Linked DNA regions of Homo sapiens: region 1 is reported to be linked to region 2. Evidence: microRNA targets listed by miRTarBase, many of them from high-throughput screens and not tested one by one. Region 2 holds a microRNA gene; the other region holds the end of a gene's coding sequence.

What was found. The annotated mature microRNA hsa-miR-1252-3p reads CAAAUGAGCUUAAUUUCCUUUU and lies in region 2 at 3,006-3,027, shown strand. An mRNA with a match to its seed (bases 2 to 7 or 8) in the 3' UTR can be bound and repressed. Matches are read on the target gene's strand: a 7mer-m8 pairs with bases 2 to 8, a 7mer-A1 pairs with bases 2 to 7 and ends in A, and an 8mer does both.
Region 1: the mRNA of GTF2I is a reported target of hsa-miR-1252-3p. Seed matches in the 3' UTR shown: 7mer-A1 at 1,535-1,541.

Annotation. Positions count from the first base shown.
Region 1 is chr7:74,758,437-74,762,800 of GRCh38, forward strand. It overlaps GTF2I (general transcription factor IIi), which reads left to right. Exons shown (of 35, transcript NM_032999.4): 34 at 344-419; 35 at 1,112-2,256. The coding sequence ends at 402. Among named protein-coding and RNA genes, the nearest start is that of NCF1, 13 kb to the right of the region's middle.
Region 2 is chr12:79,416,291-79,420,690 of GRCh38, forward strand. MIR1252 (microRNA 1252) reads left to right here and starts at 2,967; the gene lies at 2,967-3,031. The region is part of intron 9 of SYT1 (synaptotagmin 1); the gene reads left to right.

The sequences.
Region 1 (4,364 bases), not on the chromosome of region 2:
ATTTGCAGGTTATGCTGTTGAGTGATGACGCATAGCTGCTTTTGCTCCATTTCCCCCAGATGACTTGGTAAATTCTCCGTGAATGACTCTGCTACATAACCTAGATAACCTAACGTGTGTCCTTTAAATGCATGTAAGCCAGAAGATGTATGTTACTTTGAAAACATAAGTAACAAAATTTTGAATGTATTGCTAAAGAGATGTCTCTCTGAAGCTCTTTTGATGTTTGGTGTCTTGTCCTTCTTATTAAACCATATCTTAGTAAATAGTTTGGTACGAATGGATTTATCACTGAGCAGGTCTGCAAAATAATTAATCGGTACCGTTTTGTTTCTGTTGATAGAAATAAAAGAGACTGATGGAAGCTCTCAGATCAAGCAAGAACCAGACCCCACGTGGTAGACCTCTTCCCTCCTAGGGTAAATCAGCTTCTGTGTCAGGGATGCTGTGTGGTGTCCATCTGAACCCCCTGCATACGCGTAGCTAATGTGATCTCCCCACTTTCACATAAGATGGTGGCCCTGCCTTCAGGGAATGTGGGAGCCAGGTGGGAGCCTTCCCGGATATTTAAGCTAGAAGATTCTACAGGGAGATTCTCCTTGGATCAATATATGTCTCTCAGTCAAAGATGTAAAAGCACTTTTGCCTTAAAAAGAATGTTCTGTTTCTAAATAGAGTCAACGTTGTCCTCCTCATTGGAATTCACTATGAGTCAGAATCATTAGACTGACTTTTTTTTTTCCATAGTAATAGTATTTTGCAGAGTCTCACAGAGCTGCAGATCTTTTGTTCATCTTGCAGAGTTAACAAGTCTGATCCTGTTAGTCCAGATTTCTTAAATTTGGCCAAGTTATAATAGGAGCAGTAGCTTGAGACCCGAAGTCAGGAAACTTTGACAATGGATTTTTTTTTTTAATCCAGAGACTTGTACTGGAATTTGCCTTACCCTGTCAGCTCATGGACTTAAGGTTTCATCCCGCTTTATGAGTGCTTCTGAATCCAAGTCATTGTTACCTGAATTTGCAAATTAAGTTGTGATATTCGTGACTGTTAAATTCCTGTAATTAGATTAACCTCTTTGCTTGCTTGTTTGTTTTCTCTCCTATTTTAGCTTAAAGTATCAGTGGTTGAGAAGAGCTTTTCGGACCTGTTACTACCCCAAGCTGTGTAATATACTTGTATAACAGAAATACCTTCTATACAAACCTTTTTTTCTACTTTTAGATAGAAATGTCTACTTTTTCAGCAGTTCTGTGAATTAAAGAGCAGAGTGACTGTGGGTCTGGAATGGCTGGTGTACTTGGGAATGTACTATCAGGATTTTACAGCAATGCTGGGAAATGACAGGGAAAATGACAGGAATGAATCTCACCAGATTTTTTATGTACTCAGCAGAGCCTTGAGTTACGGTGTTTATTTTCCAATCAAGTGAAGATATCTCCTACTTCTCCTACTGGAACATCTCAGCTTCTGCAGTGAAGAAAAATTCCTGTGATAGTTCAGTTCTTTAGTTTTTCTATTTGAAAAAAAAAAATCATTTAAATGATCCTTTGTTCACGGCTCTCCTTAATGACTGAGTGAACAGTTCCTATCTGTATATTTGACTAAACCTTTTCCTAAGCTATCTCTCATGGTTCCTATGTTTTTTTATCATAATTAAAAGCAAAACCATCTGGATCACCTAACAGTCAGAGGTCAGTATCTCAGCGTGTGAATTATAGAGGAAATACAGAGAGAACCTCTTCCACTTTTACTTTTCGTCCAAATAAAATGCATGGTGTACCAGAAGTTGAAGATCGGGTTGAGGATTGGGGCTAGCTCGATGACACTAAGGCCCCAACATCGCGGGACCTGCTGTGGCGCGGATTCTTAGGAACGCTGTTCTAGCCGGCCCCCTCTCCAGGGGTCGCCGTGGCCGGCATTATTTCCTAGTTCTTCTTGTAACCCTGAGGTGCCAGCGCGGGGAGTGAGGAGGGGTCAGGGGGCTAAGGATGCAACCTCTGACGTTCTGCGCCTTCCTAGGAGAGTCTTACATGTGTTGAGATTTCACAAGCAATGCGAGTTGTAAAATACCAGCTCTACAAGAAGCTAGGCTCTGTGACGGCATAGTTTTCAGTAGCTTTATCACAATATTCACAATGGAGAATTATATGACATGGTAGCAGAAATAGGCCCTTTTATGTGTTGCTTCTATTTTACCTCAAATTGTAGATATAGGGTAATCAATAAAATCCATCCATGCCTTTCACACACTAAGTCATTGCTCTCTCGGCTGTTTTCATGGTCCTGTCTGGGGAAGCTTGGGGGTGGCTCGGCGTAGGTGGGACGCAGACCAAGGCCGAGGCTGGCGCTGGGCAGAGCCCGCCGGGCCTCCCGGGGACAGCGCCACTTGCGGTGTTTCTCAGACCGCTGCTGCCCATCTCCTCTGAGCGGGCCAGGGCCCCCACCCTTCCATCTGGGCCATGCCAGCTGTGTATGGAGAGCCGCTCACATACGACATTGGGTGCCAAAAGCCCCTGCCATCGAGAGCTCATGCAGCAGTCCCTCCTGCCTGAGCCCACACACTGACTCTGAGGCTCTTCTGTTCTCAGCGTGGTCCCTGCCTCTGCCGTGCCCTATCCGCGTGTGCCAGAAAGGGAAACTGATCTCATGATTCACCTGCCTGCTAACCTGGGAGGAGACTGCTTCTCTGATAGCATCTCACAGTTCTTTTAACATGTTCTTAAAATGTGTCCTGCCGCACCACCCTCAGCCACACCTCCCAGCACCCATCCTGGAGAATCAGGGCCATGGCAAGGCTGCCGTTGGCAAAAGCCCAGCTCTGCCATGAATCTCCGTTCAGTTACTGGTTTCACACTCATTTGTGAGGTCACAGACTTGCCAAGGATATTCATGATTCAATCCATTACAACAATTCTGTGTGTACATAACACATTTTTTCCTTTCTTTTTTTTTTTTCCTGAGACAGTCTTGCTCTGTTGCCCAGGCTAGAGCACAGTGGTGCAGTCTCAGCTCACTGCATCCTCCACCTCACAGGTTCAGGCAATTCTCCTGCCTCAGCCTCCCGAGTAGCTGGGATTGCAGGCACCCACCAACACACCTGACTAATTTTTGTATTTTTAGTAGAGACGGGGTTTCAGCATGTTGGCCAGGCTGGTCTCAAAATCCTGGCCTCAGGTATATACACATATTTTTACACACACACACACACACACACACACACACACACACACATAAAGGATTTAAGCCAGGTGCTGTGGTGTACAACTGTAGTCCCAGCTACTAGGGAGGCTGAGGTGGGAGGATCACTTGAGCCACTGCAGTGATTACACCACTGCACTCCAGACTGGGTGACAGTGAGACCCTGTCTCTTAAAAGAAAAAAGAAGAGGCCTTAGCTGCCTGCATTAATTAATGAACAGGCAGTGTATTTCTGTTCTTTTTTTTTTGAAGACGGAGTCTCACTCTGTTGCCCAGGCTGGAGTGCAGTGGCGCAATCTTGGCTCACTGTAACCTCCGCCTCCTGAGTTCGAGATTCTCCTGTCTCAGCCACCCCAGTAACTGTGATTATGGCCACCTGCCACCACGCCCGGCTAATTTTTGTATTTTTAGTAGAGACGGGGTTTCCCCATGTCGGCCAAGCTGGTCTCGAACTCCCAACCTCAAGTGATCCACCTGCCTCGGCCTCCCAAAGTGCTGGGATGACAGGTGTGAGCCACCAAACCCAGCCTCAGGCAGTGCATTTCTAAAAGGCAGATAGTGTGATTGTTCAGAGGGTGAAGGGGAAGTTAAACTTGTCCAGTAAAATCTTCGTTAGCCCGGTATTCTGGATTGAAAAAGCAAAATATAGTTCAAGTAGGTCTCTTCAGTGTATCTAATAAGCTCTTGTTTCTGAAACAACTGATTCCTTGGCCGGGCGTGGTGGCTCACGCCTGTAATTCCAGCACTTTGGGAGGCCAAGGAGGGCAGATCACTTGAGGTCGGGAGCTCAAGACCAGCCTGGTCAACATGGTGAAACCTCGTCTCTAGTGAAAATACAAAAATTAGCCGACTGTGGTAGTGCACACCTGTAATCCCAGCTACTCGGGAGGCTGAGGTAGGAGAGAATTGCTTGAACCTGGGAGGCGGAGGCTGCAGTGAGCCAAGATCACACCACTGCACTACAGCCTGCGTGACAGAGTGAAACTCTGTCTCAAAAAAACAAAAACCTCCTGATTTTTTTTTTTTTTTTTTTTTTTTTTGAGATGGAGTCTGGCTCTGTCGCCCAGGCTGGAGCGCAATGGTGCGATCTCGGCTCACTGCAACCTCTGCCTTCTGGATTCAAACGATTCTCCTGCCTCAGCCTCCAGAGTATCTGGAACTACA
Region 2 (4,400 bases):
TGGTAGATATTTGCCTGGAAGTCCCTTAGGAAATGATGGCAGCAAGACCAGACGGCAAAAACAAAAAGTTGAACATCTTTGCCATTTTCATTTCATGTCCAAATGCTTCTTAGAAACATACAACCTTATTGGCATTAACATTTTGACATTTTATGTATAGATCCTCTTCTAAATAGAGTTTAGGTTTATATTCATATTATTGTAGTAAAATAACAGATGATCACTATTTTTTCAAAGATTAAAAAATATGACTCAGAAAAATGCGAGCATTGGTAATTTAGTTTTGGGCTTTGTCAAATATCTTTTAAAAAACTCAGCTAATAATACACTAAGGCTTCTCATACATAATTTGTATTGTTGATTAAAACCTAAGAATGGAAAGAAAAGGCTAAGTCTAATTTTTTTGCTAAAAGAATGAGTAAAAAGTAATCAGCCATGTTAATATTTCAAACAGCAAACTATTTGAAATGCATTTCTGCTTTGAAAGGAAAATTTGAGATGAACAAGTTCTATTATACACTATTGATAAAGAAAGAAGATATAAAAGGTACAATATACTCTTAAAAATGATTGCACTTTCAAGGAAACATAAAAGAATAGCTTCTTTTTTGGCCAGTAAGAAAACTGAAGCCCTGTGTAGTCATAAATAGCAAAAATACAACGAAAATCCTAATATGTGTGTGTGTGTGTTTTCTCTTCTTCAAGATTCCTATAATATCTAACAATGATATATTTGTAACTTACTCTGAATTGCAAAGCATGTATCAATTGTCAGTTATCAAAAGTGTCTCTGAAAATTTGAGGTAGCAAAAAACAAAGAAACAATGAACATGTTCATTTAGTCTTCCCTGCTTTTACAATTTGTCATTGAAACCTGTGTCTTCCTCCTAATCATATTTTCTTAAATTGTACTTTTATTTAGGATTTGGTGATTGAGAGTTTGCGTTTTCTGTTTGCTAGTTGATTGCTTAGGTGGCCAGGTGGTTGGTTTCTCTTCATCCAATTGCATACAATGTATTTCTAAAAGGATTTTTAAGGAAATGTGGAATATCATGTAGTAATATGCCCTGTTGCTCATTCCTCCTAAATCTCTCTCTTATCTCCACCTCTGCCTCCTTTCCCGCAACCTGCCTTGGTTTAGGCCCTCACCACTTCTCTACTGATGACAACAGCCTCTCAAAGCCCAGCCCCCTTGGCTCCTGCCTTGACGTTACTACCAATGGCCTCATCCTAAAGCAAAAATCTCATTATGCCTCTCTCCTGTTTAAAATATTTAATTGGTTTTAATTAGCTTCTCACTACCTTCATGATGAAATTCGAATTCCTTAGAATGCTCTGCAAGCCCTTTCATGACAAGGTCCAGGCCTGCCTCTCCAAATGGCATCACTTGTAAATGGCATCATTTACCCTATGCTCCAGCAGTAATAACACTATGCATTCACACAGGGGAGGTTTTGTGGGTGTCAGTGCTCTCCCTGAACTGTCATCATAGTATCCCCCCACTCCCACCCCCCACTTCAACCTGGAGAACCTCTAAAGTTGTGCTTTTCTGTTTTTCTTTTGCATATCATGTCCTGAGAATCTTGTTAAAAAGACTTTACTTCTGTGGGCCTAAGATGGGGCCCGATGTTCTGCATTTCTAATCAGTTCCCAGGCAATGCTGGGAACACATATTGAAGACAAAGCTGAAAAACCTTACTCTACCGTTACTCCCTCTGTGAAAAACTCTCCTGCAAAGCTGATCTACACAAAGCGTCCTCTTTCTAATGTTTATGACTTGTATATAGAACATGTACAGGTCTTCTTAGATGTCTCATGTCTTATTTAATTACTTGGTTATAGGTCTGTCCCTGTAATCACTTGTCCATCATCAAGGGCTGGAACAGTGACTGCTGCTCCTTGTAGTCCCAGCGCTAACATTTGGTCCAGATGTATAGGAATTTCCTAGAAGTATTTTGCATGGAAATTAGCGAAAATTTTTCACTTGGTGCCCGAATGATCATTTCATAAGGTGTTGTTAAAAATGTCCACTGGATGGAAGGTTACACTAACTTTTTAGCTCTCAAATTCGTGGTTTTTCTTTATGTTATTGACAATCTCTCCAATGGGGTTTTGGTTAGGGGGAGGCTTAAAAGTAATTGATTTATGATTCTTTTAACCAACATGTAAGTCAAGAGGCTGGCCAAGAGTTTGAAGAGCCCGAACCTGTTAGACAGTAAACCAATTATCTTTGTGACCTTGTGGGTGACTTCACCACCCCCACTGCATAGCACAGCCCTGCCTGTTTCCAAAACACCTGGCCTTGCACAAAAGAATGAAGAAAGAGCCAAGGCACAGAGAATATTCTCCAGCAGAGAGTTTGGGCAAGAAGTCTTAAAGATGTCTGAGTAGAGAGACAATTAGTGGAAACAAACATCTGTCCAAGGTCTCTCCCATCATGTCATGAACTTGACAAGAAAGGCCAGCAGTAACTCTTCCAACCGTGGTAACCAATGGCCCTGAAATGTGTTCAATATCAGGTATATCAGAGCCCGAGAGATAAGAGTGGTTTTCAATGCTGTATGCACGTTAGAATCACCTGGGAAGTGATATTTGTAAAATATGAACACCTGAGGCCCCACCCCAGAACAGCTAATTCAGAATTTCTGGGGGAATGGCCAAGGGGTCAGTAGATTTTAAAACTCAGGTGATTATACTGTGAAGCCAGAGTTAACAACCACTGATAGAGGGTAGTACCTTCTTCCCCTATAGGTGCCTCAGAAGTGAACATCTAACTTCAGCTTACACATCCCACTAATTGACCACTGAGTCTTACTTATTTTAGGCAAAACGAAACCAATAGAAAGTTTTGCCTTTTCTCTATGTAGAAGGGACTAATGATTCTATAAGAATTTTTAAATTTCTACTCACATTTCCCATCACACAGTTGTTGAGAAATTGGTAAGTTGAGAAAAAATGTGAGGTGTAGAAAGAAGGAAATTGAATTCATTTAGAAAAGAGAATTCCAAATGAGCTTAATTTCCTTTTTTCTAAATCTTAATAATCTACCTTGCTTTTCTTCTCCTTCCACTGCACCCTTTCTCCATGAATTCATCAGTCATAGTGGTAAGCTCACAGTATCCGGCAGCAGGTCAGGTGGGATCACACTGGCTAACAAAGGATCTGAGGGTACAATGCAGAAGTTGCCAGATAATGGGATTCAATTACATTTCTAAGCATAGACTTCTCCAGTGTTGGCTGTTACACTGCCCAATGTGGAAAAGCACTGCTTTATCTACATGGCAAGTGCTTCATACATTTTAGTTGAATCTGACTCGGAGTACCTCAATTTTTTTAATGAAATATTTGAGGTCTACAATAGTAAGTATAAATAATAATATAATGAAGACTCTTGTACCTATCACACTAAAGAAATAAAACCTAACATCTATAATCAAAATAGCCTATGTCCTCTTTATCTCCTTTCTCTCATTCTCTCCTCAGAGGTAACTGTTACCTTGAATTTATGATTCCCAACCCTGTTTTCTCATTTTGTTTGTCATTCCAATGTATGTTTTTATGACACACACAGTTTTGGTTTTGTATGTTTTCAGCCATATAAATGGCACTTTACTGTATGTATTTTGTGCATTTTCAAGCTTTATATAAATTGTATCATATATCCTTCTGCAACTTGACTCCATATTTCATTCTTGGGATGTATCTGTGTTGATTAAAGTAACGTTGTTACTTTTTATTGCTGTATAACATGCCATGGTAGGTAAATACCCCAGTTGGTCAGCTAATGGATTTTTGAATTGTTTCTAATCTCTTGCTGTCACAGACAATACAACATAGCTCCTTGTGCAAATGTGGGTGAGTATTTCTAGATATTTACATAAGAGTGGGATTGCTGGAATGTAGGGTATGCACAATTTTTAAATTTCCTAGATGTATTAAATAACACCCCAACCAGAAGTGTGTGAGCTTTCCTATTGCTCATATCCTTGCCATGTTGGCACTGTTAGACTTTTAAATGTTCAGCCAATTTTAACTGGTGAGTTTTCCCTTAAAAACCCTGAAGAGGGCAGCATATCCTGGTAATTGCTGCATCTTATACCTGCATTCCAGTTTATGGGTCCCTCCCTTCTTTACTGGTTGAAATCCTTTGACCTCAGTTACTCTTCAACCCACTCTCTCACCTCAGTCAGCTCTGGGCAGTATCTTAGAAGGACAGACAATATAACACTATCTCAAAGCTGAAAGTTACCTCCAGCTTTTTCATTCCACATTCCTGGCACACTTCTGTCCTCTGACAAGGAGGAGGTAGGGAAACAGAAACAAGTCAGTCTGGAATTAAAACACTTTTTCCAGTTCAAAGTAGCACAAGAGAGATATGATGTGAGTAGAGAGTAGTCTTC